Homo sapiens: one gene and its partners. The protein of the gene in region 3 purifies or fractionates together with the protein of the main gene of each other region. This does not show direct contact. Each region holds a gene or a part of one and is shown on either strand. Other genes may lie near its edges. The genes, in order: POU2F2, RRN3, TMEM108, SFXN5, SLC25A24, SLC25A23 and ACAD10.

Evidence for each region.
Region 1: the proteins of TMEM108 (region 3) and POU2F2 purify together in Homo sapiens (affinity purification with mass spectrometry; 2 studies listed by BioGRID and IntAct, with this or other methods). This does not show direct contact.
Region 2: the proteins of TMEM108 (region 3) and RRN3 purify together in Homo sapiens (affinity purification with mass spectrometry; 2 studies listed by BioGRID and IntAct, with this or other methods). This does not show direct contact.
Region 4: the proteins of TMEM108 (region 3) and SFXN5 purify together in Homo sapiens (affinity purification with mass spectrometry; 2 studies listed by BioGRID and IntAct, with this or other methods). This does not show direct contact.
Region 5: the proteins of TMEM108 (region 3) and SLC25A24 purify together in Homo sapiens (affinity purification with mass spectrometry; 2 studies listed by BioGRID and IntAct, with this or other methods). This does not show direct contact.
Region 6: the proteins of TMEM108 (region 3) and SLC25A23 purify together in Homo sapiens (affinity purification with mass spectrometry; 2 studies listed by BioGRID and IntAct, with this or other methods). This does not show direct contact.
Region 7: the proteins of TMEM108 (region 3) and ACAD10 purify together in Homo sapiens (affinity purification with mass spectrometry; 2 studies listed by BioGRID and IntAct, with this or other methods). This does not show direct contact.

The regions. Positions count from the first base shown.
Region 1 is NC_000019.10:42,125,757-42,129,955, reverse strand, and holds part of POU2F2 (POU domain, class 2, transcription factor 2), read left to right. Parts: intron 1-4,199. UniProt on the Homo sapiens protein: Transcription factor that specifically binds to the octamer motif (5'-ATTTGCAT-3'). Regulates IL6 expression in B cells with POU2AF1. Regulates transcription in a number of tissues in addition to activating immunoglobulin gene expression.
Region 2 is NC_000016.10:15,084,090-15,088,288, reverse strand, and holds part of RRN3 (RNA polymerase I-specific transcription initiation factor RRN3), read left to right. Parts: intron 1-1,834; coding exon 1,835-1,924; intron 1,925-2,030; coding exon 2,031-2,160; intron 2,161-2,590; coding exon 2,591-2,650; intron 2,651-3,583; coding exon 3,584-3,647; intron 3,648-4,199. UniProt on the Homo sapiens protein: Required for efficient transcription initiation by RNA polymerase I (Pol I). Required for the formation of the competent pre-initiation complex (PIC).
Region 3 is NC_000003.12:133,387,350-133,391,548, forward strand, and holds part of TMEM108 (transmembrane protein 108 isoform 1 precursor), read left to right. Parts: intron 1-2,830; coding exon 2,831-2,985; intron 2,986-4,199. UniProt on the Homo sapiens protein: Transmembrane protein required for proper cognitive functions. Involved in the development of dentate gyrus (DG) neuron circuitry, is necessary for AMPA receptors surface expression and proper excitatory postsynaptic currents of DG granule neurons.
Region 4 is NC_000002.12:72,945,800-72,949,998, reverse strand, and holds part of SFXN5 (sideroflexin-5), read left to right. Parts: intron 1-4,199. UniProt on the Homo sapiens protein: Mitochondrial amino-acid transporter. Transports citrate. Does not act as a serine transporter: not able to mediate transport of serine into mitochondria.
Region 5 is NC_000001.11:108,134,099-108,138,297, reverse strand, and holds part of SLC25A24 (mitochondrial adenyl nucleotide antiporter SLC25A24), read left to right. Parts: intron 1-1,460; coding exon 1,461-1,645; 3' UTR 1,646-4,199. UniProt on the Homo sapiens protein: Electroneutral antiporter that mediates the transport of adenyl nucleotides through the inner mitochondrial membrane. Originally identified as an ATP-magnesium/inorganic phosphate antiporter, it also acts as a broad specificity adenyl nucleotide antiporter.
Region 6 is NC_000019.10:6,439,196-6,443,123, reverse strand, and holds the end of SLC25A23 (mitochondrial adenyl nucleotide antiporter SLC25A23), read left to right. Parts: intron 1-964; coding exon 965-1,149; 3' UTR 1,150-3,060; downstream 3,061-3,928. UniProt on the Homo sapiens protein: Electroneutral antiporter that mediates the transport of adenine nucleotides through the inner mitochondrial membrane. Originally identified as an ATP-magnesium/inorganic phosphate antiporter, it also acts as a broad specificity adenyl nucleotide antiporter.
Region 7 is NC_000012.12:111,737,626-111,741,824, forward strand, and holds part of ACAD10 (acyl-CoA dehydrogenase family member 10), read left to right. Parts: intron 1-4,199.

The DNA of each region.
Region 1 (4,199 bases), on a different chromosome or scaffold from region 3:
TGCACATCTGTTTCTTGTATTGTGTTGGCCGGGGCCTTGCCTGGCTGTGGCCATGGGGTGTGTACTGTTGGCAGCTCTTGCCTGCTGTCAGCGCAGCTGTGGGGCCACCTCTCTTGTTGTGTCTGCTGCCTGTATCTCCATCCCTCCCTCCTGACAACTCAGAAATGTTCACTCCCTTGAGGCCACCCAGGGACAGCTGTGGGGTGGGGAGGGGTGAGGTGCTGCTTCTGGGGAGGACGGGGGCTCGGCCAGCTGGGCCCACAGAGGTTCCCGGCAGCACCAACCTGCCCACAGGGGCTCCCAGGCCATACCCCTAATTGAAGCAGGCTGCGGAGGCAGGGGACCCAGGGGACAGGACAAGTGGGGCCAGGAGGGGTGAGGGGCAGTCCTTGGGCCCTCTATATTTAGCCCCGTTTTCGGTAAGTGCTAACGAGAAGCTGGCCTAAGTCTGCTAAAACTGGCGGGGGGAAATGCAGAGGAGAAGTGAAAGTCCGGGGAGGGAGGAGTGGGAGGGTGGAGAGGACCAAGAGTCCCAGGCCTGGGGCAGTCGGGCAAGTGAGTGTGAGCTCAGGGCTGGGCAGCCCTGGTTGAGGGGTGTCTGACCTGAGGAAGGTGGGATTCAAGGGGCAACATGGCTCCAAGGGGCCTGGTAGGGCTATGCATTGCTTTTTCTCTTTCAGTTCCCCTAAAATATTACACATTACCTATGATGAGGGGTGGGAATAGCCATACATAACCAACCAATCTTTTGTGTGTGAATGAGGCTTTGAGAGGGGCTTCTGAAGGTGCCAGGGGATGGAGCACATTAGAATCACCAGGAGGGGGCTGGGTGCGGTGGCTCATGCCTGTAATCCCAGCACTTTGGAATGCTGAGGTGGGCGGATCACTTGAGGTCAGGAGTTCGAGACCAGCCTGCCCAACATGGTGAAACCCCGTCTCTAATAAAAATACAAAAATTAGCCGGGCATGGTGATGCATGCCTGTAATTGCAGCTACTCGGGAGGCTGAGGCAGGAGAATCGCTTGAACCCAGGAGGCAAAGGTTGCAGTGAGCTGAGATCATACCATTGCACTCCAGCCTGGGCGACAGAGTGAGACTCTGTCTAAAAAAAAAAAAAGAGAATCACCTGGAGGGGCTTTTAAATATCTGGATGCCCAAGTCACACCCTGTACCACTGAAATCAGAGTCTAGGGTGGGAACAGGCATCAATATTTTTCTAGAGTTGAGTGATAGGCGATGGGCATCTCTGCCTGGGCTCAGGCTGAGGCTGAGGCCGAGCCATTTGATGGACCCTCCAAGTCTATGATTGCTAGTGCCCTGGAGTCCCTGTTAAGGCGTCATTTGGCTTTTAGTCCACGGTGGAAATGGAGCTCCCTGTTCATTCCTGGTGGAAATGATCTGACCCTTCTCTCAGATTGAGCTCTGACAGGGGAGGTGGAAAGAGAAAAGACAAAGGGCAGCAGTTGGCCATTTTGTTGTGACCCAGCCAAGTGTGGGGCAGGGAGTATGCAGGGATATGTAGGAGTGGTTGGGATAATTTAGGGAGAATAAGGGTAACAGAATGGTGAAAAATTTCCCTCAAACCACTCTTGTCTTTCCAGCCACAGTCTCTGCAGAGGAAATCATACCTTAAAGATTTAAGTTAGGGTTTCTTGGGGATGTTGGGTGACAGTAGAGATAGGGGTTTGTTTTAGACAGGATTGGGCCCTGGTCAGTTAGGGGATTCTTTAATGCATTCATTCATTCCAAAGACGTACTCCTAGGCCTGTGCAGCAATGACTCCAGCCTGGGCTCCTGAGGAGCCCACAGTTGGGGTGGAGGTCTCTGCCCAGGATGATCAGGATGTGGTGGAGCACAGTACAGGGTCAGTGAAGCCCAGAAGAGAGAGACACTGACCATCTGGGGAATCAGAGAGTACTTCACAGAGGAGGTGACATTTGAGCTGGACCTTAAAGAGGAGCAAGAGTTTGCCAGTAGAGAAGGAAAGGGTCACCCAAGTGGGAGACGAGCAGAGGCAAAGGCCTGGGGGAGGGAGATCAGGACCTTGGGGCCACTGATCCACATGTCTTCTGCTGGGGAGTGTTTAGGAACCTGAGATCAGATCTGCCCTTGAAAAATTCCTAGTCTGATAGGGGAGACATAGTGGGGCCCGGCTAGCTACAGTCAGCCTCTAAGACAGTGACAAGGGAAGGTGCTAGGGTATGGGGAGCTGGAGAGAGACCTGGCTGGGAGCTGGGGGCATCAAGGTGGTGGTTTCATAGAAAACAGAGCTTATGGCCGGGCGTGGTGGCTCACGCCTGTAATCCCAGCATTTTGGGAGGCTGAGGTGGGCAGATCATGAGGTCAGGAGATTGAGACCATCCTGGCTAACACAGTGAAACCCCTTCTCTACTAAATATACAAAAATTAGCCAGTCGTAGTGGCGCGCACATGTAATCCCAGCTATTTGGGAGCCTGAGGCAGGGAATTGCTTCAACCCAGGAGACCTCTGGAGCTTGCAGTGAGCCGAGATCCCACCACTGCACTCCAGCCTGGACAACACAGCAAGACTCCATCTCAAAAAAAAAGAAAAGAAAACAGAGCTTATGCTGGGTTCTGAAGGATGAGTCCGGGGGTCGCCAGGTGGACAGATTGGGGAACAGTGTTCCAGACAGAGGGAACAGCCCATGCCAAGGCCTCAGGAAATGTTTTAAATGGCAAAGTGCAGGCATGGTGGCTCATGGCTGTAATCCCAGAACTTTGGGAGGCCAAGGCATGAGGATCATTTGAGCCCACGAGTCTGAGACCAGCCTGGACAACATAAGGAGACCCGTCTCTACAAAAAAAAAAAATTTTTTTTTTAATTAGCTGGATGTGGTGGTGCACAGCTGTAGTCCCTGGATGTGGTGGTGCACACCTGTAGTCCCAGCTACTCAGGAGGCTGGGATGGGAGGATAGCTTGACCCCAGGAGGTCGAGGCTGCAGTGAGCCGTGATTGTGCCACTGCATTCCAGCCTGGCCGACAGAGCAAGACTCTTGTCTCAAAATATAAATTAAATAAAATAAATAGCAGGGAGACAGTAAGACAAGGGTGAGAAGTAGTAGGAAACAGAGACTGCTAAAGAGAGGGACATTCAGCAGTTACAACCCGTTCTGGGCTTGTGATGCTGGGGACCCAGTGATGAGTCAGACCAGGCCTGTCGCATTGGTCTTGTGGGGAAGGAACCTGGACACAGACAGCCACAACTGGGGGCTCAGGGATGGGACAGCAGGAGGGCAGGGGCTGTGAGAGGCTTAGTTTGCTAGGGCTTCCACATCAAAGTACCACAGACTAGGTGGCTGAAATAAGAGAAATTCATTTTCACAATTACGGAGGCTGTAAGTTAAAGACGAGGATGTCAGCAGGGTTGGTCTCTTCCAAGGCCTCTCTCCTTGGCTTGTGGTCCACTGGTCTTCTCCTGGGTCTTCATATGGTCTTCCCTCTGTTCCCATCTGTGACCTAATTCCCTCTTTTTCTTCTTTTTTTTTTTTTTTGAGATGGAGTCTTGCTCTGTCACTCAGGCTGTAGTGCAGTGGCACGATCTCGGCTGCCTGCAACCTCTGCCTCCTGGGTTCAGGTGATTCTCCTACCTCAGCCTCCTGAGTAGCTGGGATTACAGGCACACACTACCATGCCCGGCTAATTTTTGTATTTTTAGTAGGGGTAGGATTTCACATTGTTGGTTAGGCTGGCCTCAAACTCCTGAACTGGTGATCTGCCCACCTCGGCCTCCCAAAGTGCTGGGATTACAGGCATGAGCCACCGCGCCCGCCCCCTCTTCTTATAAGGATGCCAGTCAGATTGTAGTAAGGTCCACCCTAATGACCTTATTTTACCTTAATTACGTCTTTAAAGACCCTATCTCCAAATACAATTACATTTTGAGGTATCAGGAATTAGGACTTCCGTGTATGAATTTTGGTAGATGCAACTTAGCCCATAGCAGAGGTTAAGGATGAGTGTGGACTTTCTGGGCTGGCAGTGGGGTCCGAGGCTGCCCTGTTCTGTGGACGGGAGAGGGATGCCCAGCTAGGTGGGAGTGTAGAACCTGCACAGCCTGCTGTCAAGCAGACCCCCAAGCAGGGGGAGATGCTCGACATGGGTGAAGAGCACTGTGCATGAGCTGCAAGAGAAGAGCAGTACAGGGTGGTGGGCCAGCCCCTGGAGGCCAGGTTGTTTA
Region 2 (4,199 bases), on a different chromosome or scaffold from region 3:
GCCCAGGCTGGTCTCAAATTCCTGGGCTCAAGCAGTCTCCTCCTGCCTTGGCCTCCCAAAAGTGCTGGGATTACAGGCATGAGCCACTGTTCCTGCCTGCTAGTAGAAATAATAATAGTTCAGTACTAAAGCATCAAAGTCTGCAACTGATTTACTTTTTTTTTTTCTTTTTGAGACGGAGTTTTGCTCTTGTTGCCCAGGCTGGAGTGCAGTGGCATGATCTTGGCTCACTGCAACCTCTGCCTCCGAGTTTTTTAAGCAATTCTCCTGCCTCAGCCTCCCGAGTAGCTGGGATTACGGGCATGCACCACCACGCCCAGCTAATTTTGTATTTTTAGTAGAGACGGGGTTTCTCCATGTTGGTTAGGCTCATCTCGAACTCCCAACCTCAGGTGATCCACCCACCTCGGCCTCCCAAAGTGTTGGGATTACAGACATGAGCTACCACGCCCAGCCTGATTTACTTTTAAAAATGGTACAGTTTAAATGTTATCCTTATAGTTTTGTTGCAGTCTTTTTAGTGGAAAAGAGATAGGATAGTTTATTTTATTTGTACACTAACTTAGCTTGTTTTCTACATGCCTTTGGCCTTAGTGAGCTACCGTTAATGTTATCCTTAACAGTTGTGGACATATGAAATTACCATAGTACAAATGAGTTGTGGTTTTACTTTATTTTACTGCCAGGCTACTTGGGATTTCATCAGAAAATGGTTGATCTGTGGGAGTTTGACACATGGATATGGCATAGTAAGCACTCAGTAGCTGAATTAAGGTGGGGAAAAGGGGACAGCTTCTTCTCCGCATATAGGGAGGCGTGTGGGACGGTGGACAGAGGATAGCCTTGACCGAGACAGACGGGTTTGGACCTGCTTCTTTACTGGCCTCTTGGTTGGGCAGATTGCTTATTAATCGTTCTTAGCCTCAGCTTCCTGAACAGCAAAATGGGAATAACTAAACATCTTGCAGAGTTTTTAGGATTAGAAGAAGATATATATGTGGAGTGTCAGGCACCATGCCTGGCATATGGTGTATTCTCACTAAATGATAACTCCATATGAATATCCCTGTAGGTATGACCTTGTGTTGCTTTTATTTATATGTCTAAGCCTTCCACAAATTAGGGGCTTTTTCTTAATGGTTTTTTTCCTGTGCAGTATATATGCATGAATATAATTAATATAGTAATATTTTACATAATTGACACTGTATTTTATACATTGCGTTTCAAATTTAGCAGTTCTTCTCATGTCACTAACAATTACTATGAACAGTAATTTGATTGCCCGAAAAATATTTCATGGAGGAATGGGGCTATCATTTATACAGAACAATCACATCATAATATATTTAAACTCAGCCACAGGTTTGGTTTAGAAAAGTTATGTTTATTCATGACCCCAATTGATCAGCCTCGACTGAGTTTTATCAGCATGCTTCCTGGTCAGCTTGAATATAGAGGAAATAGAGGTAGCTATTGTTCCTTTGTGATCTTCTAATATTTCAGTCTGCTAGAATGCTGCAGTTTTTAAAAGTCCCAGGTGTCAACATTTGAGGTGATTTCGCTTTTTCAGGGCAAACAGAAGTGATCAGGCTGAAGTATTGCATTTAAGTCTTTCTCCTGTGTATTAGAGTTACTAGATTACTTTCTTAAAACAGTTAAGTAATTTATTGTGACATCTTTTTCTGTTTTAATACCCAGTTTTGAGTTCCTTCCAAGTTTGTGACCTTTTCCCCCCAACCTATTCTTGATAAATGATTGATATAAGATAGCTGTAAATTTCTGTTATGTTAGAGGATTTGTGATTTTGAAAGTACTCTTTGTTTAACTTAAGGATGACCAGATCATCAACTGGCTGCTAGAATTCCGTTCTTCTATCATGTACTTGACAAAAGACTTTGAGCAACTTATCAGTATTATATTAGTAAGTTCACCATTTATTTTACTGTAAAGTATGTAATTCAGAACTTTGGTAATAGTATATGTTATATTAATAACATGCTGCTTTTATCTTTCTTCCCCCACTCTAGAGATTGCCTTGGTTGAATAGAAGTCAAACAGTAGTGGAAGAGTATTTGGCTTTTCTTGGTAATCTTGTATCAGCACAGACTGTTTTCCTCAGACCGTGTCTCAGCATGATTGCTTCCCATTTTGTGCCTCGTAAGTCATTGCTTGGAATTTTATTTTCTTTTTAATACTTCTTTATTAAAATACTACCTTCCCCTTATATATGAGAGACTGCTACCATGGAAGATTCCAGATGCATATTGGCACCAGGTCTGGTAGACATATATTCCCCGTAATGACCCCTATGGAGGTGTCTAGATTCATTTGTTGCTGTGAGTTTTATGAATTTATTTGCTTTATTGAACTCCTGGTGAAATCTAGGAATTTTTAGCCGTTTAAAAACTATAAAGTTGCTTTACTTTTTTTCAGATTGTGCGTTTAATTAATCATTGGGCTAACTTTGGATTATGGAAAAATAACTTTTTTTATAGCTGTTCATTGTCTAGGTCAGTAACTTTTTTTGTATAGCCATTCATTGTCTAGATCAATGACAGAATAACATATTTTCTTTTTCCCTCAAAAGCCCGAGTGATCATTAAGGAAGGCGATGTAGATGTTTCAGATTCTGATGATGAAGATGATAGTAAGTATAAAAAGGTTTAAAGCCTGGGCACAGTAGCTTTCACCCATAATCCCAGCACTTTGGGAAGCCAAGACGGGAGGATCACTTGAGGCCAAGAGTTTGAGACCAGCCTGGGCAACATAGTGAGACCTTGTCTCTGCAAAAAAACATTTTTTTTCAAATATTTTCTTAAAAAAGGCTTAAAGTAGAACTAGGCAGGGTAGTGTGTGTCTTTAGTCACAGCTACCTGGGAGGCTTAAGTGGGTGGATTGCTTGAGCCCAGGAGTTCAAGCCCTGCTTGGTGGCAAGACACTGTCTTCTTTAAAAAAAAAAGTAAAGCACAGAATACCTGGCACCTATTCTAATAAGTAGACTGCAACAAATGACAACCTTTGATGTAATCTTTTTGTTATATTTACCATTGATATGCAGTCATTTGTCCTGAATGCATTATTTATATAATTAGTCCATTTAATTTTCGTTGATGCTGGTGGAGAAAAATCTTGAAATTATTATTTCTCTGATAAATTATTCCGTTTTGGTTAGCATGTGTTTTTAGCTTCAAGTATGTCACTTTTTGTTTGTTTGTTTTTTGAGACAGAGTCTCGCTCTGTTGCCCAGGCTGGAGTATAGTGGTGTGATCTCGGTTCGCTGCAGCCTTCACCTCCCAGGTTCAAGTGGTTCTCCTGCTTCAGCCTCCTGAGTAGATGGGACTACAGGCATTTGCCACCATGCCTGGCTAATTTTTGTATTTTTAGTAGAGATGGGGTTTCACCATATTGGTCAGGCTGGTCTCGAACTCCTGACCTCAGGTGATCCACCCACCTCGGCCTCCCAAAGTGCTGGGATTACAGGCGTGAGCCACTGTGCCCAGCCAGCATTTATTTTTAGCTTCAAGCGTGTCGCCCTTCAGTTTTGTTTTGATGCTCATACTCTGAACTTTTCTCCTTTCAGATCTTCCTGCAAATTTTGACACATGTCACAGAGCCTTGCAAATAATAGCAAGATATGTACCATCGTGAGTATACTTTTCCTTATTTTGAATGTTTAATTCTCAAGAAAATTGTAATCAATTAGTAAAAATTATAAAATGTTAATAGTATTAAAGCTTGAGTCTTACATTGCATGTTTTTTTTGTATCCACTTGAGGAAACATTACATTCTACAAAAAGTGGCATTTCCATTTTCTATTTATTCTCTTTAATTGTTTTTCAAAGTTTGTATGCAGATCCTCCCCCAATTTTGTATGGTGGTTGGAATTTTGCTTTTATCTTCAACAGATATGCTATCCAAAATTTTTCAGTGAGAAACCCCTGGGTGTGTTTGTGTCATGCCATATGAATAAAAATTGCACTTCTAAGAAAAGCTTTTCAGGTTTGTGGGTTTCTTTTGGAGGGGTGGACCTCTAGTTCCCTCTGTCCGTTGATTATTTGTTAACTTAAAAAAAATCCAACTTGATGATTTTTTCTTCTTTTAAAAATAATATACATGTGTAGTGGGAAATGTCAGCAAAAGTGCTGTTATGTTTCTGTGGGAGAGAAGCTCCCTCTTTGATTTGCTGTTGATATCA
Region 3 (4,199 bases):
TCAGTAAGTAAATGAAATGGTGTTTGAGAAGCACTGGAAACTCCCTGAGAGAAATATAATCAGGCCAGGAGCATGAACATGTGAGGGGAAGACAGCGTGGAGCAGAACTTTCTGTTCTGACTCCCAGGCCTTCCCGCAGGGCAGGATCTCTGCATCTGGCATTCTAACAACATGGGCTGTTAGAGCACTGGACTCGGGGGCGGAGGACTTGGATTCTGCAACCTCTACCAGCCCAGGTTAGCAGCATGGCCTTGAGCAAGTTCACCTCTCTAGGTTTCCATGCCCCACCTTCTAGAATAAGAATGTAGGCTGGGGGAAGGGGCTGATTTGTTTCAGCACCTACTGTGCACCAGGGACAATTTGAAGTGCTGGCAGATGTATGACTGCATTTAATCTTCCCAAGGAAGCTGACGCTGAGAGAGGTTAAGTAACTTACTCAAGTCATGCAAGTAATAGATTGTCACCTAGATTCTAATTCTAAATTCGATGTCCCTTTTGCCCTATTGACTAGGCCTAAGATGGCATCTGTCACTTTGATTCTGTTTGCTTATAACTGCTCAGTAGATCAGAGGCACAAATATCTTTCTACCTTAGAGAGGCGTGCAAACTATACAAATCTGACTCACAGATACACTTTTCCCCTGCCAGCCTGTGTTCTGTGTCTATGGCAGTGTTTTGTGGGGCATGATGGGATGTGCCCCTACAGGCTGATAACTGAAGAGCTGTTCTGTTTGTCCTGATTGCTCCCCTCCCTCTAGCTCTAACTCTACCAAAACTGAGCTGGAGCTGAGGAAACAGCACTTTTCCCACTTCCCAGATGGTTCCCTCTTTATGGCTTCTGTCACACCAGCTAGAACTCCTCCAGGTGTTTCACCATGCCAGCTGCAGGAGCAGAGTGAAAGGTAGTGACAATGAAGAACAGAGACACCAGAGAAGGGGACAGGGGACCCGGGATCTTGTCCCAGCTCTGCCACTCACATACCTGTGACCTGTGGCAAGGCGGCCAGCACTTTAGGCCACAGTTTTTCCTCTAGAATAAGGAGGCGGCCTGAATTAGCAAGTTTCAGGCTGAGCACCACAGCCCCCTCCTTGCCCCTTTCCTCTTCAACCATCTGAAGAAAGGGTTTTTTGGAAGGAAGGGAGGGAAAGAGGAAAGAGATCCACAATATTTGAAAAGTTCTGTACCAGCTAATCTCTCAAATCCCCGTTAGCCCTAACACTCAGAAATTCCTTCTATGTTTTAAAGATTTTTTAAAAAGGATCTAGAAGACTGAAAAGCAAATTAGAAGTCTTTTTGATCAAAGCAGATAAGATAAAGTAGAAACTTACCCTATCTCCTAACCTTGTACAGAGACCTTTCCAGGTTGAGAGGCCAGCAAGGCTGGCAGCTGGAAAGAAAGCTACAGAATTCCCCAGGCAGCCTACAGGGCCCTGGGCTCTGGGCTGTGAGGTCTCAGCCTATACAGGTGCCAGCTTGTGCAACTGCCCCACACCCTGGCATGAACCCACCCCTGATGCTGGCCAGACCCTCAGGCTGCTGCGAACAGAGCTGGCCCTCTGCCAACCCCCGGTGCTGGCCTCTCTGGACAGCCCAGCCTGGGACCCCGACTCCCCAGCACAGAGATGGTTGGCACCACCAGGATGTCAGATGTGGCTCTTGGCTTCAGCTCTCCTCATCCCCAGAGGCTCTGGTGATGATGAACCTGGGGCAGGATATACTCAGTCCTCACTTCATGGCTTCTCCCCAAGAGGCCTCTGTCACCCTTGTCCTTGTGTTACCCTTCTGCAGTGTGAATCTGGACAGGCCACCCCACCTCTCTGACCTCAGAAGCCTTCCCTGCTCACAAGCCACTCAATTCACACATGGTTAATCAACAATATCGAGACATAATTCTTCCTCCTGGGCCCTGGGAGTCTCAGGGATGAACAGACAGGGTCACATGTCACACTGTGCTCAGTCAAGCTGTGTGGAGCCCACCTCAGGCCATCTGTGCAGGTGGGCTTTTGCATCAATCTAAGGCAGGAATCAGCTGGTAAGAGCATAGACTGGCCAGGTGCAGTGGCTCACACCTGTAATCAATCCCAGCACTTTAGGAGGCTGAGGCAGGCGGATTACCTGAGGTCAGGAGTTCGAGACCAGCCTAACCAACATGGCAAAACCCTGTCTCTACTAAAAATACAAAAATTAGCCAGACATGGTGGCAGGCACCTGTAATATCCCAGCTTCTTGGGAGGCTGAGGCAGGAGAATCGCTTGATCCCAGGAGGCAGAGGTTGCAGTGAGCCAAGATTGCGCCACTGCACTCCAGCCTGGGCAACGGAGCTAGACTCCATCAAAAAAAAAAAAAAAAAGAAAAAAAAAAACCATAGACTTTGGAGTCCAGATGTCTGGGTTTGCTTTTGGGCCTATCACTTTACCTCTCTGAGCTTCAGTTTTCCTATCTGTAAAATGGGGATCCTAACAGTACTGACTTTATGGGGCTAAATAGAGGATTAAATGAATATTTCTATGTCCTTGGAACCATGCCTGGGACGTAAGTCCTATATAACTATTAACACAGGATTTTTTGATGATGATGATGATGATGATAGTACCAGAAAAGCTATTTTATCAGCATTCAAGACTTCTGCCCCGTGATTTTGCTCTGTGAACTTCTGCTGTAAAGGTCTTCTGTGGAATTAAGGCTCACTTTGTACAGTTCACCATGCCCTGCCCCTTTTCCCACCATACACTTACTCCAGCTGGGAACTCTCCTCATCAGTTCGGTGGTGCAACCCAGGCACCATCCTTGCTGCCTCCCTCTCCTCTCTGACTTGCACTCTCTCCATAGCTGTCCTGCTGACGGTGTGCTGCATGAAGAGGAAGAAGAAGACCGCCAACCCGGAGAACAACCTGAGCTACTGGAACAACACCATCACCATGGACTACTTCAACAGGCATGCTGTGGAGCTGCCCAGGGAGATCCAGTCCCTTGAAACCTCTGAGGTAATGAGCTTGAAAGTGCTGGCCCCACTGCAGGGAAACCAGGTCCAAAGAGAGCCATGGGGCATCTGCTCATTTCTGAGTGCCTTGCTCCTTAACGTATGGCCCATGGACCAGCAGTATCAATAACACCCAAGAGGTTGTAGGCCCTACCCTGGTCCTACTGAGCCAGGATCTGTGTTTTAGCAAGAATCCCCAGGTGCTTTCTGCACAGTAAATTTTGGAAGCACTGTTCCTGGGACTTTTGGTTTCTGGGAACAAGTGAACAAATACTCAGTGAGGACCTGTTTTGTGCCGAGCACTCCCAGGGCACTATGAAGATGAGAGCTTGCTCCTAAGGGGCTCAGGTTCTGAGATGTGGCTGGAGGACAAACCCCAACATCACCCAAAAACAAAGCCAATTAGGGGAAACACAAACACAGACGAGTTATAGACAAAGAGCTGTGGAAACCCAAGGAGGAAAGCCTTCCCAGTGCAGATGCTAGGAAGGATTAATGGATTTCAACAGGCATTCCAGCAGAGGAGGTAGCCTGAGGAAAGGTGAGGATACGTGCTGGATCTGAAGGGAAAGAAGAATACACTGTCAGCATATTTGCCCAAGACACCTGGCTGGTCAGTGAGTGAGCTGAGCTTTGAACCCAGGACTTTAACCACAGAATCCATACTCTTTCCATCCTCACACGGAGGGTGGCGTAGAGGCCAGAGTGAAACAGTAAAGAAGGATAAAGGCCCAATTAGACACAGCCTTAATGGGGTATTATGGCATTGGGACTCTAGTTTGGGGCAGCAGAGAGTCACTGAAAGTTTTGATCTTTGGGTGACCCAGTTTTAGAAGGATTATGCTGATGGCCTGGTGAAAGCACCCTATATGTGATCAGCGAATGGATAAGGAAAGAAAATAATGGCTTGATGGATGAGTAAATAGATGGAATGACACAGAAAGACAGACTAAAAATAGGTAGCTCAACTAGGATGCAATTGAGATGGCCCAGGAGAAAGATAACAGACATCTGAGTAAGGCAGTGAGAGCTGAGAAGAGTTCTTGTGGAGGTGCAACCCCACCCCTCCTTCCCGTGTGGGTCCCTTCCCCAGAGCAGCCAAGGTGAGCTTTTGTAAACATAACTGTGGTCACATCGCTCACATGCTTAAAACCTTCTCATTTCTCTCCAGTTAAAGTTCAAAGTCTTGTATAGGACCTGCAAGGTAGACCTAGACCC
Region 4 (4,199 bases), on a different chromosome or scaffold from region 3:
TCCACCTGGGGAACCCACTGGCACCCCAGACTCCATGTGGCCATCCTGAGCCTACCACCCCCAACCCTGGCCCATCCCCTCCCATATTCCCTCCGAGAATGGCGTCACCAGCCACCCCAGCTCCTGAGCTAGAATTAGGAGTCATCCAACGCACAGTCATCCTCAACACCTCCCTCTCACCCCCACGTGGAATTGGTCATCAACTCCTGTGGATTTCATCTTCAGAAAGGCTCCTCCTGTCTTCCCCCACTGGCAGCATCATAGGGCAGGACCTGGCACTTCTCTGATTCCCACAGATGCTCCCCAGGAGGCCTCCCCACCCCCTCCTTACCCCTCCAGTCCATCCTCCACACCCACCATCCCAAGAGAGACCTTTCTAAGACAGTCTAAGGCCAGGCACGGTGGCTCATGCCTGTAATCCCAACACTTTGGAAGGTGGAGGATCACTTGAGGCCAAGAATTCAAGATCAGCCTGGACAACATAGCGAGACCCTGTCTCTGTAAAAATTTTTAAAATAATTTAAAAATTAGCCAGGCATGGTGGCATGTGCCTGTAGTCCTAGCTACTCAGGAGGCTGAGGCAAGAGTTTGAGGCTGCAGTGAGCTGCAGTCACACTACTGCACTCCAGCCTGGGTGACAGAGCGAGATCCTATCCCAAGAAAAAAATAAAAACAGAGGCTGGGTTATGGTCCACTCCTGCTCAAAGTCCTTCTGTGGCTCCCTATTGCCCTCAGGTAAAATGCTGACACCTTCATGTAGCCTACAAGATTCTGCCTGTCCCAGCCACACCTCCATTTCCTGCCACATTTCCAAGTCCAACATTGCCCCGCCTCCCAGAAACAGGCCATGCTAGCCAGCTAATATTTTTTTCTTCACCCAGCAAGCTTGGCCTGCCCTTTCTGATCAAAATCCTCCATTCTCTTCCTGGCTCACCACCTCTGAGAAGTCTTCATTCCTTGTTCCCTTATCAATACATTGGAACTCCCAACCCCTCCCCAGTTGCCATGGCACTCTGCTTGTCTCTCTGGACTCCATCTGCATTCACCAGCCAACTCCTCTCTAGACTTTAAGCTTCTAGAGGGCATGAGTTGGTCTTGTCCCCCTCTGTGTGCCCAGCCTGGGTGTCTGGAGTTGGTGACCATCAACATCTGCTGACAGGAGGGTGGATTGACTTGAGAGAGGAAGCCTAGGATGTCAGCTCTGTCCTGGGGCCCCTGCTCCTGATCCCTCAGCCACCTCCCCCAGGAGCCTTCCCACTGCCTGCATCTCCCCCTGCTCCTACCTGCTGCCCTGTGTGTGGCGGGGAGCCCATGGGAGACGGGGTGCCAGGAGGAGGAGGCCTCGGTCTCCCCCGGGCCAGCATGCTCTAGGGAGTGGGCACAGTGGGCCGTGGCCCTGGGCCGTGGTCCTGCATGGTGGTGCTGAGCAGCCTCTCTGATTTTAATGTGGGCCTCAGTGCTTCAGTGAAAGCCGGCATGGGAAGTTGCTAATAATGGCACTAAAATAAAATATGCTACATCTGTTATGGGTAGCAGAACAAAATTAGCTGCTCACACCTCTGACATCCAAGATGTCTTAACTTAAAATACTCCTTGGCTTACTTTACATCATTTACTGATTATATTTAAAAGAAATACAATTTTGCAATTACTGTTCTTTCCAGCGTGATATCTATGCATCATTTTCCTTTTATGTTTATATATTTCTCCTTCATTAGTGCAGTCTGAAGGGTGATTAGGATTCTTCAAACATTTTACAGAGGTTAAACGTTGATTAAGATTTAATTATTACTGTAAATAGCTTGGAATGACATATGGTGCAAAAGCCTGACATATGTGCATTTGAATAAATGAAGTGCTATTTCCCAGGATGCCTCAGTAGCTGTTTAACAGCTTTCCCGAAGGGTTATGTTACACCTCATGGTAAGATTGCTGGGATGTTATATTTTGTTGGTTTTTGCAGCTGAAAGCTAAGAACAGTTTTCCAGTTTTTTAAAAACATTGAATATTTTAAATACCTAAATTGTTTTGCACAAATTTTTGCTAATTTGTCTAACTAGGTTAAACATTTTCAAAAGCATTTAGATTTTTAAGCGTGGGCGCTGTGCATTGTGTCAGTGGCAGCGTGGGGACGAGGGGAGCCGGCAGGGTGGAGGGGACTGGGGGTGGCAGGGGTGGGGTGGGAGAAGGTGGTTTGAGAAGACGGAGTGGCGAAGAGGCCTGGGCCCTCAGCCTGGCTCTCCTCTGTTTGGCCCTCTCGGGTGACCAGACTTGGGTAACGGGGTACCAGCGACTACAGAGGAAGGGTCCTCTCTTCTCCCACTGTGCCCACCAGCTCTAGTCCTCACTACACTCCCTCTTATGGGGACTCCAATGTGCACAGCCCAGACATGACAGAGCTCTCCGAAGGCCAGGCTGGCCTGTACCACCTTCTGCCCACTTCCCAGGGTTGCCACATCTTGACATATGGCGGGTGTCTAGAACCAAGTTCAACCAACCTAAGTTGCAAGAGGCCTGGTGCCTCCTTGACTCTGTCCAGGGCAAATGTCCGGCGGGGACCTTCTCACTGCAGTAGTGTCTTTCTCACCTGCCCCCCTCTAGCTAGGGGCTCAGGCATCCCCACGGGCTCAGTCCCTGGAGATAAAGCCCAACATCGGGGCTGATGTGGTGTCTCCAGGGGAACCCCGTCTTCCAGTGCCTATTCTATTCCAGTGCTCTTTTCTTTCTGCCCATGTATTCCACACTGAGGGAGCACCTACTGTGGACCAGCATTGTGCTAGGCTTTGAGGACACAGGGGCGAGACAGATCCGCACGTCCGCTGCCTCAGGGAGCTTGTGATCTAATGTGGAGAGGTGGGGTATGAGAAGTTCAGGGAGCTATGGGGGCCACAGAGGTGGCCACGCCCAGCGTAGGGGAGGGAAGGTGTCTAAAGCTGAGACACGAAAGATGATGAGCTGAAGACGGGAGAGCAGAGTAGGGGCAGGAATGGAAGTAGGACGGGGTGTCTCTGAACAACTCAGGCAAAGACTGGAGTGGGGACAGAGCCCAGGGTGTGCGAGGAACCAAAATCAGTCCATGTGCCCTGTGTCTCCAGTCCAAGGAGCAGGGTGGCGCGGGAGTCTGACTTGATCCCTGAGGATCAGGGTGCCATGGAGCCATTTCACAGTGAAGAGAGGCATGGGAAGACTTGCAGTTTAGAAGGCCGGCACTGGCTGTGGTTGGGGACGGACTGGGCTGGATGAGACCTTGTGGGGAGGGACGGGGAGAGGACGCAAAGAGGCTCCAGAGTCTTTGGGCAGAGCACCACTGGATGGCGGCGTCATTCCCGAGATGGAGAGCTGAGTGGGGCCAGGGGAGAGGGCAGGTTCAGTTCCATTTCAGGTGGGTTGAGTTCAGGCGCCTGTGAGACATCCACAGCAAAGTTTGGCAGGCAGGCGGCTGTGAACCTGAGGCTCCAGGGAGAAACAAGGCTGCAGAAATCTTGTGTGGGGGTAACCCAGGGCATGTGCAGAGAAGAGGGCCCAGCCAGACCAAGCCCCAAGGACCCCGAGGAGCATGCAGTGGGTGTCGTGAAGTGGGGGGTGGCAGTGACCTTGGAGAGAAAGATTTTTCTGGAGTGTGGTGAGAACAGAAGCCAGATTTACTGTGGGTTGAAAAGTCAGTGGGAGGGAAGGAGGTGGACACAGCCAGTGTAGACCAAGTTTTTTAAAGAAACGTGGCTGCTGGGGAGGAGAGAGACCAGGTAGTAGCTGGGCCTGCCTTGGGATGAAGGGGAGGTGTCATCAGAGAAGGTTCCTGCATGTGGAACACTAACGGGCAAAGGTGGGAGAGAGGGAGGATGACCCAGGAGGGGGCCCCGGAGTGGGCAGGGGAGGTGGAGCCAGGTGGGGTCCTGTCCTGCGAGGGGAGGGATGGCAGCTGTGGGGTGGGAGGAGGGCAGGTGGAAAGCCATGCATGGACACGGAAGGCAGCGGGTTTGATGATGGGAAGCTGAGGGTTTCGCCTCTGACACCTTCAGCTTTTTCCCTAAATAAGAGGAAGTGTCACCTGCCCAGGATGCGTGGGAGCAGGGGGTGGGTGGCCAAGGAGAGGAGAGCAGAGCAGGTATCCAGTGGCCTCTGGAGAGTGGGCGAGGGAGCTGACCTGGCTATGGGGGCAGGGGTGGGGTGGTTGTCTGCAGTGGTTGGGGGTCCAGCCA
Region 5 (4,199 bases), on a different chromosome or scaffold from region 3:
AAGCAGTCAGTAACTAATTGGCAAATACTCCCTGAGCCATTGTCCCATTCTAGACACTGCCAGATGCTAGGGGTAGAGCAGTCAACAAGTCAGGTGTGGCCCCGCCAGTGTAGAGTAGAGAAGACGTTATGTCCAGCAAGTAAACAACCTGGTTAAACCAACTCCTCTTTTGTTAGGGGAGCACAGAGCAAGGAGCTATAACCTAACTTGGGCGCTGCAGAATGCTGTCAGTGAAGCTGAGACTGGAAAGATGAGTGGGAGTTAGCTGGGCACAGGCCAGTGGAGTGGGAACAGAAAACATTCCAGTTGAGGGAAAGCATGTGTGAAGACACTGAGGCAGGCACCAACATGGTGTATTTAAGGAGCTGAGAGACAGTCATGGCTGTAGAGAAAAACACAAAGTAGTGAACTACACGTTTCTTGTGTATTCTCTCATTTCACCATCATAACCATCTTGGGGATGGGAATACTAACATTATCCCCATTTTTCAGATGAGCAACTGGGGCAGAGAGAATTTAAGTAACTCCCACAAGATTATACCTGTGGTAAATAGTGGGACTGAAATTCAGACACATGCAGTCTGATTCTAACCCTCCTGTCTGCCAGCTCTGATCCAGAACTTTGCATGACTGATACGGCTGATAGATTGTCTATGGCTGATAGACTGTCATTTCTGACCTAAAAGTCTGATCATTTTACATCTGTTCAGACATCTTTGCAGCCTTTCGGTGTCAGTTCCAAAGTTGTTAGTGGGAATTTCAAAGCCTTTAATAATCTAGCCCCACTTTGTTCACTCTCTGTGTAATAACCACATACAACAATTGGCTGCATCTCCATAGCACATGGTACTCCTCCCGTTGTCTTGGTTGTGCCAGCAACACTGGTTTTCGCTTTCTCTTCCTGCTTGTTGAGGTCATTTCCAAGGCCCAGGTCTTTGTGCTTTTTCCCAAGCTTCCCAGAGCTTCTTCCATACTCCCCTTACTTCCTGAGATTTAACTGTTCTCTCTTCAGCGCTTGTCTAGTAAGAAGGAGGCAGCAGCAGCACTGTGGGGTGGTGGAAAGTGTACCAGCTTTAGAGTCAGACCATTGGATCTCAGCCCTACCATTTTCTACTTAGATTTTTTTAGGACAAATTTCTCCATCTTTCTAAGCCTCCAATTGCTCACTTACAAAATTGATATAACATTTACCTTGCAAGATTGGTATGGAAGGTAATTAACCCAGTATTTAGAACATAGTAATTAATAAATAACTATTATTACCATCATTACTATAGTTAGGACACTCACTGTTAGGTGCTATACAAAGAGGATCATAAAAGGGATGTTGTCTTGGGCTTCTTGGAATAAATGTTGTCCTTTTACTGTATTTTAGAATATCATTCTGGGTCATAATTGTTTGTTGTCATAATAATGAAACATACTTGAATATTAAATTACCCTCTTTTTTTATTTTTTAGCCATGTTAGAAGGTTCCCCACAGCTGAATATGGTTGGCCTCTTTCGACGAATTATTTCCAAAGAAGGAATACCAGGACTTTACAGAGGCATCACCCCAAACTTCATGAAGGTGCTCCCTGCTGTAGGCATCAGTTATGTGGTTTATGAAAATATGAAGCAAACTTTAGGAGTAACCCAGAAATGATGTTGCATTTTTTGCTTTAGCCTGATAATTGAAACTTTCAACAATCTCTGGAGTGACTTTTTCTCCTCGAATTGAAACAAGTCTATGGCAAAAGAAGCTGCATTTTTTTCACAAAAGGGAAGATGGTAACAATGGTCACTTCAAACTTTTGGGCTAAATTATATGTACACAGAAATGTTCAAAATCATAGTTTTAATGTGTTTTGAAAAGGCCACACAATTATACTTTATCTTTTCTTAATAATCCTGCAAATCTCTGCCCTGAATCCGAAATCTGAAAATGTACTGGCTTGAACAAAATTTGTTTTGTGTGTTAGAGTTATAAATCATTAATCTTTATTTCGGGTGGTTTACGTTTATGCCAGTTCCTTTATATTTAAATTTCTTGTTTTATATATTTTGAATGTCTTTATAGATTTCTTTAAATTTCCTTATAGAACCATTAATAGAAAATCATTACATTTAAAATATACCTTACAGCAAAAGCATCCAAATAAGTATAGGGTTTATGTCCTTATTTTTCTTTCAGCTGAATACGAATGAACACAGTGGTGGAATTTCTGAAGGGAAGTGATGAAATTATATTTATTTCAGTGGGCACTTTTCCATTTTACCACTGTACCATTATTTGGTTCCTGGAGTTATACACTAATTTTCAGTATATTACTGTTAAATTACCAACACAAGGCAATTTATTTGAAAGATTCCGTTTATCCTGCCATTGCTTTGAAAAGCAGCAGGAAACGAAATCCTTTGACTTGTATCAGCTTCTGCAGAGCATCTTTGTTTTCCTTTGTCCTTTGTTTCCTACCTTTTGAATCAGATTCCGTTTTAGTCAGGAAGACTTCTTGGGACCATTCTTAGTAACCTGAAATTTCTTTTTTAATTGCATGAAGTGGATTGATCATGAGCAAATGATGTGCTTATTTCTCCCTCACTGTTGAATATCTTTGAACTTGCTGTTTTCAATATGGGCAGCACAAAGGTGAGAGATACATATTAATAGTAGTATGTATTACTCTTATACATTAGATACCTATATTTAAATGAAAGGCCCAATTTGTAAACATATACATTCATATTCTCTCTTGCCCCAAGTTTTAGGAACATGTTAGGATATAGGAGACTTAATTTATAATAATGAGAGCATTTTTTTATTTTACTAAAGCCATTTTTATAGTCAACTATCTTTTCTTATTTGTGTGATTAGAACTTAGAAAAATATTTACTAGTTGAAGTTATTATCAGTTTTTAATTTAGTTCTTAAACTCATTTCACTTCTAATAATTTCTGTTATAAATTTCCAGCATTTTAATGAAAATCTAATGATGTAATAGGCATTTTCTTTATTTGAACCTACCTCTTTTATTTTCTGAACCAAAGAGAAAGATGGACTGGTGTTTGTGAAACATTTTTAAAAATGTAGTTTCATTTATATTAGTTATGTTTGATAAATGTCTCAGTATTTTTATAATATGATAAGCCTGGGATTCTACTTTTAGGGTTATTTGTACTTTTGAGTAATATATAAAGTGACAATATTAAGGTACATGATCAGCTCTTTCTATTTTTACTCGTAAAAATTATGGAAATGAATAATTTTGCTAACAACTTTGAAATTTCAAACTTCTGGAAAATATGAAAATATTCATTGTTCATTATGAATTTAAATTGTAAGGTATGAATGTGATTTGTCTGTACATCTTGTATCTTTTCCAAAAAATGATTCTGTATCTTTTGGAAAAAAGCCGAGAGTTGAAGATAGTATATTTCTGGTAGTACTGAATATTTACTTACAGTTTCTATCAAAAATATATATTTGTTTCTAAAATTACTTGTTTTCCAGTTTTTATTTTTTTTAGAGAAAATTCTTAAGTCTCAGTTTCCTAATTGAAAAAAAAAAATTATAAATAAAGCAAAAATTGTATCCTACAGCTTAGCTAGCTTAGATGTTTGGCACCAGTTTGAATCATGCTTTTTACAGCTGGCTCCATGTAGTCTTTCCAAACATTTTGGCCTTTCCTGAGCAGCCCTTGTAGATATTGTCTGTATGATGCATTTTGACACAAGGTGATATTTTTTGTGATATCAAAATTCCACATTTACCCATTAGAGTTACAGCCCTGGGGTTCACAGTACCAAGGGGGACCCAGAGCCTCAGGATTGGCCAGGCTCATTTTGCCGTGGAGTATCAGTTTGTCTTGAAATTGTGGGAAAAAATTCTAAGTTGAATTCACTGGTAAGTAATTTTTTAAAATTTCATAATGCAGATTACATCCAAAATTTGATTTAAAAATTAAAACATAAGACTGCAGAGAAATTCTGCATTTCAACTCCAATACTATCCAGACTTCAGAAATAACTTATCAGTTATTTCTGTAAGCTTCTTGCTTACCTGGATACCTGACAGGTGAGATGGCTGTAGCAGACACTGGCAGTTCCCTGCCCACACACCTGTCCCTGTCCACAGCTGCACAAGGCAGCTCTGTGTGCAATTGCCAGCATCTGCTCCTCTGTTCTCAGGGAATCTTTGTTAGAAAAATGCTGCCATATTT
Region 6 (3,928 bases), on a different chromosome or scaffold from region 3:
CTACTGAAAATACAAAAATTAGCCGGGTGTGATAGCAGGCGCCTGTAATCTTAGCTACTCGAGAGGCTGAGGCAGGAGAATCACTTGAACCCAGCAGGCATAGGTTGCAGTAAGCCAAGTTCGTGCCATCGCACTCCAGCCTGGGCAACAGGAGTGAAAACTCTGTCTCAAAAAAAAAAAAAAAAAAAAGGGCTGGGCATGGTGGCACACGCCTGTAATCCCAGCACTTTGGGAGGCCGAGGTGGGCGGATCACCTGAGGTTAAGAGTTCAAGGGCCGGGTGTGGTGGTTCACGCCTGTAATCCCAGCACTTTGGGAGGCCGAGGCGGATGGATCACCTGAGGTTGGGAGTTGGAGACCAGCCTGACCAACATGGAGAAACCCCGTCTCTACTATAAATACAAAAAAATTAGCCGGGCAAGGTGGCGCATGCCTGTAATCCCGGCTACTTGGCAGGCTGAGGCAGGAGAATTGCTTGAACCCGGGAGGCGGAGGTTGCAGTGAGCCGAGATTGCACCATTGCACTCCAGCCTGGGCAACAAGAGCGAAACTCCGTCTAAAAAACAAAAAGTGGGTGGAGGGCAGGGAGGAGCCTGACTTAGACTGGAGCACCAAGGAGGAGTCCCCTGGGGAGCTGGCTCTGGGATAGGGGTTGGGAATATGAGTAGGAGTCAGCTGGGAAAGGAGGGAGGGAACCTGGCTCCAGGAGGAGGACATTTCTGTCCTTTCTCACCTTGCACACCCATACCTGCTCCATTTCTAATTGTCCCCAAACTTGGGGCGAAAAGGTGAGCAGCCAGTTCCAAGGTCAATACAAGTCTCGACTCTGAGTGGTAGGTCCCACTGTTAGTCTAACCTCCTTCCCTCCTGCTGCAATGACACCACCTGGCCCAACCCTGGGGGTAGGAGGGGGAAGTGAAAGGGGAACGTTGGCCTTACCTGGTGCCCCCCCCGCCCCCTCCCAGCCTCCATCGAGGGTGGCCCCCAGCTGTCCATGCTGGGTCTGCTACGTCACATCCTGTCCCAGGAGGGCATGCGGGGCCTCTACCGGGGGATCGCCCCCAACTTCATGAAGGTTATTCCAGCTGTGAGCATCTCCTATGTGGTCTACGAGAACATGAAGCAGGCCTTGGGGGTCACGTCCAGGTGAGGGACCCGGAGCCCGTCCCCCCAATCCCTCACCCCCCACACCTCAGCCACTGGAGACTGATGATCCAACCACAGGATCCCTACTCTTTGGCCACGAGATCCCAGTACCCAGATCCTGGATCCTAGACTCCTATGCCCCAACCATTGGGTCATGGGATCCCAGCATCCAGATCCTGGATCCTAGACTCCTATGCCCCAACCACTGGGTCATGCGATCCCCACCCTTCAGCCACTAGATCCCAGATCCCCCTGTAACCATAACTGTGGATCCCTTACTTCAGCAACTCAAGTCTGCTACCCTAACCACAAGATTCAAGATTATCCACACCCCAGCCCTTAATCCCCATCCCCCAAATCACTGGATCCTGCAGCCCCACATCCTAAGGTGGATCCCACGCTTCCCTGTGCCCCCTACTGGATCCTGGACCTCTACGTCTTAACCACTGGATCCCACACAAATCAGTGAATGGATCCCAACACCCCAACCACAGGAGCACGGATTCCCTGTACCTCAACACCCAGACCCTGCCTCCCTCAGGCACCAGATCCAGTGTCCTAGTGAAACGCTGGATCCTAGATCCCCAACCCCAGATCCCCATGCCTCGAGCCCTGGATCTCCAAGCTCAGCTGCTGGATTCTGGATGTCAACAAACCTCACCACTGGATCCTGACAACCACAATGCCTGGATCCTGGGGCCCCCATCACTGGATCCCAGATCCCCTCACTCCACCCACTGGATTCCTGCATTGGTTTTTGGTTTTTTGTTTTTTTTTAACCTCGACACTGGGTCTCAGATCCTTCTGCTGACTGCCAGATCCCTGCATTTCAAGCACTACGCCTTCCACCCCCAGGCACTGGATCCCAGATTCCCAAGCCTTCACCCACCAGATTCTGGCTCCTAAAACAAGTGCGGGGGCCCCAGTGGCACAGCAAGTGGATCCTGGCAACTGCAGCTGCTGGATTCCAGATTCTGGGTCCCCAATCCCTCTGCCCAGTCCCTCAATGTTGAAACCTCATCTCTTGAAGGCAGATCCTGATATTCCAAGGCACTGAATCCCAAGCCCTGAATCCCCGGTTTCTGATCTGAATCTTCCAGGCGCCGGGTCCCAAATGTTCAGGCCCCAAGTCTAGATCCTGGCAGCCCAGTCACAGAGTATCCCACACACACTGGTGCCCAGAGCCGGCTTCTCATGACATGAAATTGCATGGTCGAGGGAGTCTGTGGGGAAGGAAGCCCAGGTCCTGGCTGCAACCTGCACGGATGCTGGATTCCCCCTCACCCCACCTCTGCATGGCCACCCCCTCCCAGCCCTGTGGGGAAACTGTTCCCTGGAACCACTCCACTCCCTGCATCCCCACACTTCACAGCATCTTCCATCCCCCTCCCACCTTCTAGGCGAATAGTCCCCAGAGCTGTGTTCCTCCAAGGGGTCCGAGGAATCACTCACTCCTGGAGGCTGGCAAGGAGACAGTCTGAGGCCAGGGACACATGAAGGGATGTCCCCACCCCAGCACTATCAGGGCCTCCCCAGGCTTCCAGAGTTGAAAGCCAGGAGAAAATCGGCAAAGACCACCCTTCCCTAAACCCAAGCACCCAATGATGCAAAAAACAAAAACAAAAAAAAACCACCAAATCCCCAAATTCATTCCAGATCTATTTTTCTACCAGAGAGAGGAGCAAAGTCCTCCTCCCCTGCGCCCTTACATTCTGCACTTCATAGTTGGATTCTGAGCTTAGGATCATCTGGAGACCCCATGGAGGGACTTGGAAAGGGGAACTGGGATTTGGGGAGGGGCTGGAGGACTTCCGCACGCTTCCACCTCCTTCGACCTCCACTGCGCCCCACCTCCCTGCCTGTGTGTGTTATTTCAAAGGAAAAGAACAAAAGGAATAAATTTTCTAAGCTCTTTTATTGTGGTTTTTACTGAAAAGGGGGTGGGTGGCTATGGGACCACCTTAGTCTACCCCTAGGGAAGGGACAAGGGGCTGCTTCCCAACACCCACAGTTCCAAGAGCCAGGAAATGATTCCCTCTTTGAGCCTCAGTTTACACATCTATAAAATGGGAGCAGGGGAGGGAGTCCCTGTTTATAACCCCTTCTAAATTTTCTGGGCTTTATTATTTTTATTTATTTATTTATTTTTGAGATGGAGTCTCACTCTGTTGCCCAGGCTGGAGGGCAGTGGCACGGTCTCAGCTCACTGCAACCTCTGCCTCCCGGGTTCAAGCGATTCTCCTACCTCAGCCTCCTGAGTAGCTGGGATTACAGGCACCCACCACCACGCCCGGCTAATTTTTTGTATTTTTAGGAGAGACAGGGTTTTACCATGTTGGCCAGGCTGGTCTCGAACTCCTGACCTCAAGTGATCCACCTGCCTCAGCCTCCCAAAATGCTGGGATTACAGGCGTGAGCCACCACGCCCGGCCTCTGTATTTTTTTTCAAATTACAAATTTCAATTTTTTTTCAAATTATCCTTTTCCTAGGGCTGCCAGACCAAATTATCACAAACAGAATGGCTTAAAACAATTTGTGTGTCTGTGTGTGTGTGTGTGTGTGTGTGTGTGTGTGTGTGAGAGAGAGAGAGAGATAGGATCTCACTCTGCAGCCCAGGTTAGAGGGTAGTGGTACAATCGTACCTGACTGCAGCCTCGAATTCCTGTGCTCAAGCGATCCTCCCACCACAGCCTCCTGAGTATCTGGGACCACAGGGACCGCAGGCACACGCACCGTTATGTCCAGCTAATTTATTTTTGAGACAGGGTCTCGCTCTGTCACC
Region 7 (4,199 bases), on a different chromosome or scaffold from region 3:
TTCCTCAAAGATAAATGTTACTGTTAAGAGTTTCCTGGGCCCTCCAGTTTTTCTGTTTATCTGTCTTCTCTCTCTCCTCCTACTTTTACACAAATGTGATCATCCTATGTGTATTTTTCGGTACTTTGATTTTAAAATTTTGTAAGCTTAAGAATTTCTGTGAAATATGTGTGTGACCATTTGCATATTTAACAACTATATGAGGCAAATTTCTTGGTGTGTGTGTGTGTGTGTGTGTGTGTGTTGAGACAGTTTCTCACTCTGTCGCCCAGGCTGGAGTGCAGTGGTGCGATCTTGGTTCACTGCAACCTCCACCTCACCAGCTCAAGCAATTCTCATGCCTCAGCCTCCCAAGAAGCTGGGATTATAGGCACATACCACCATACCCGCGTCATTTTTTTGTTTGTTTTTAGTAGAGATGGGGTTTTGCCATGTTGGCCAGGCTGGTTTCGAACTCCTGACCTCAGATGATCCATCCACCTCGGCCTCCCAAAGTGCTGGGATTACAGGCATGAGCCACTGAGCCCGGCCAGTCCCCAAGTCTTTAGGTAAAACCCCTGTGGTCTTTGACAACTTCCTTGCTCGCTAGTATGACAAAATGTTCCAGGTTCATCTTGTCTATCCAGCCTACCCAACATGGTGAAACTGTGTCTCTACTAAAAATACAAAAATTAGCCAGGCATGGTGGCGGGTGCCTGTAATCCCAGCTACTTGGGAGACTGAGGCAGGAGACTCACTTGAACCTGGGACGGGGAGGTTGCAGTGAGCCGAGATCGTGCCACTACACTCCAGCCTGGGCGACAAGAATGAGACTCTGTCTCAAAAAAAAAAAAAAAAAAAGACTTGGGAGCCAACCTGAACAGGCTCCCACTTGCTAACAATAGGAAACTTTGGGCATCACCAAGGATGATAGCTGAAATGGATGAAACACATCAGGTATGTTTAAATCCATGAGTAGTAGCCGGGCATGGTGGCTCAGGCCTGTAATCCCAGCACTTTGGGAGGCCAAGGTGAGCAGATCACTTGAGGTTAGGGATTCAAGACCAGCCTGGCCAACATGGTGAAACCACATCTCTACTAAAAATACAAAAATTAGCCAGGTGTGATGGCGGGCGCCTAAAATCCCAGCTACTCAGGGGACTGAGGCAGGAGAGAGAATCACTTGAACCCAGGGGGCAGAGGTTGCAGTGAGCTGAGATCGCGCCTGTGCACTGCAGCCTGGGTGACTGAGCAAGACACTGTCCCCCCAAAAATAAAAATTAAATAAATAAGTCCATGAGTAGTGATACAAAAACAAAGAGACAAAGTCTCATTGATGACCTCAGAGGTTGCCAGGAAAGCAACTTATTATTCTGAAAATTGGAAAATGGGGTGGGGGGGTGGGGAATCAAGCATTTGTCCTGTCTTTCCTGTACAAATGATACTGCAGGCTATCCAAATAATCAATGAGGGAATGTTTCTCTCTAGAGAAGTATCCTGGACAGAATAATATAGAATTTGCATATCACCAATTTGCAACTCCTAATGCATTAATGGATGTGGGCAATAAGCTTCAATGAAAGCCAACACCACTGAGAGACAGACAGCCAGACATTATATACCTCCTGATGCTTCCCTCAAAAGTTACACTGACTCTGCCCAGGTCTCCAGTGCTAGCTGCCAACTCATGGGAAACACAGGGTTCAGAGGGACATGTTCAGCAGCACCCTGGGCACAGCACTCACAAAATCCAGATTCTGGAAAACATCACAGGGCAAACAACTCAGTTTCTTCAAACACTTACATTTCAAGGGGAGGAAAAGGGTGAAAAAGGAACCTGTAGATTGAGAGAGACTTAAAAGAAACATCAGGCTGGGCGTGGTGGCTCACGCCTGTAATCCCAGCACTGTGGGAAACCGAGGTGGGTGGATCACCTGAGGTCAGGAGTTTGAGACCAGCCTGGCCAACATGGGGAAACCCTGTCTCTACTAAAAAATATAAAAATTAGCCAGGCCTGGTGGCGGGCACCTGTAATCCCAGCTACTCGGGAGGCTGAGATAGGAGAATTGCTTGAACCCAGGAGGCGGAGGTTGCGGCGAGCCATGATTGCATCACCGCAGTCTAGCCTGGGCAACAAAGTGAGACTGTCTCAGAAAAAAAAAAGGTGGGGGGAGCGGGGAGAGACTTAAAAGATACGTTAGCCAGTTACAGTGTTGGGACCTTATTTGGATCCTTTCTTGAACAAATTATTTGGAAAAAATTTTGATGATAGTCACTGAAACTTGAATTCTGAGTGGATAGTCGATGATATGAAGAAGTTAACAGTTAACGATTTTTTAAGGGTAATAATAGTATTGTGGGTTTTTTAAAAAACATTTGTTTTTAGAGTTTTGAAAGAATCCTAGATGAGATATTTGGGATTTACTCCAAAAAATCCAGGACAGTGGGAGTGGGGATGGCAGGGAATGAAACCAGACTGGGCTGGCATCGATCATTGCGGAAGGCGAGCAGTAGAACCCGTAGGCTTGTTATTCTCTCCTCTCTACTCCTGTGTGTCTTTGAAATTTTCCAAAAGGAGGCCAGTCATGATGGCTCACGCCGGTAATCCTAGCACACTGGGAGGCCGAAGTAGGTGGATCACCTGAGGTCGGGAGTTTGAGACCCCTGGCCAACATGGTGAAACCCCGTCTCCACTAAAAATACAAAAATTGCCTGGGTGTGGTGATGCCGCCTATAATCCCAGCTACATGGGAGGCTGAGGCAGGAGAATCACTTGAACCCGGGAGGCAGAGGTTGCAGTGAGCAGAGATCGTGCCACTACACTCCAGCCTGGGTGACAGAGCAAGACTCCATCTCAAAAAAAAAAAAAAAAAGGCCAGGTGCGGTGGCTCATGCCTGTAATCCCAGCACTTTGAGAGGCCGAGGCGGGGGGATCACGAGGTCAGGAGATCAAGACCATCCTGGCCAACATGATGAAACCCCGTCTCTACTAAAAATACAAAAATTAGCTGGGCTTGGTGGTGTGTGCCTGTAATCCCAGCTACTAGGTGTCTGTAATCCCAGCTAACTAGGGAGGCTGAGGCAGATGAATAGCTTGAACCAGGGAGTCAGAGGTTGCAGTGAGCCGAGATTGCTTCACTGTTCACTCCAGCCTGGTGACAGAGCGAGACTCCATCTCAAAAAAAAAAAAAAAAAAAAGAAAAGAAAAAGAAATTTTCCAAAAGCAAAACTTAAAAACAAAAGGCAAGGAGAAAGAAGGAGAAAGGAATTCATCATGGGATTTGCTAGTGCTGATGGAGTGTTTAGCTTTGCAGTCAGTGACACCCCAAGCTTGCTGGCAGCCTGTGTTCTCAGCCAGGTTGCCAGAGTCTTCTGAGAGAAGCAGTTGCAGTAGGGGAATTGATCATTCATTCCCAAGTATATGAGCCTCTACTAAAAGCCAGCACTGTGCTAGGTGGTCCTGGAGATACACAGTCATGAGAAAAACTGTCCGGAGAAAAACCAGTACCCAGAGAATTTCTAGTTTAACTGTACCTGGTCTGATAAGCAGGGGATGCTGGAAGCAGGAATTTCTGGAAACAATATTTTCCCTCTTTTAGGAAAATACAGTATCAGCTGTAAGCCACTATTTCCCATTTTTTTTATAGTTTTCCAATAAACACTAACCAGAAATATTTACTTAAACAGAATGGCTGCTAAGTCCTTATGGTGATGAATAGTCCTGGTCACCTCTGATATTTCCTAGCCGGCTGCCAAGTTTTCTCCCTGCTCTGCTCCAGTGACCTGGGAAAAGCTTAATAGACTGCCCATTTTAGAGTCTCCACACTGAGTGTCCTCAGCCTGTCTCTCAGGAAGCCCTTTGACATGTTTTTAAGATCCTGTGAGCCATCGTTGTGGCTTCTGGTTTCTCTCGGCCCAGAGCTAAAACACCCCACCTGTTTGCCACCAGACAGAAAAATGTCTGTTTGTTCAGGCCTTTATTCCTCTTATCTTACTGTGCACTCCTTTCCCTCCCTCTGGGAAGCCAGCCAGACACACTGAGGAAATGGCTTAGTTTTCTCATGTAAAAACAACAAAATCCATTTTTTGAAAGAATAATATAAAAACGTATGATGAATGGGGAAAAAACCAACTATACAAACATAAATATTACTTCTGTACATTTGTCTTCTACAATTAGCTTTAAAATCATTTTTGTTTGAACAGCTGAGATATTTGGT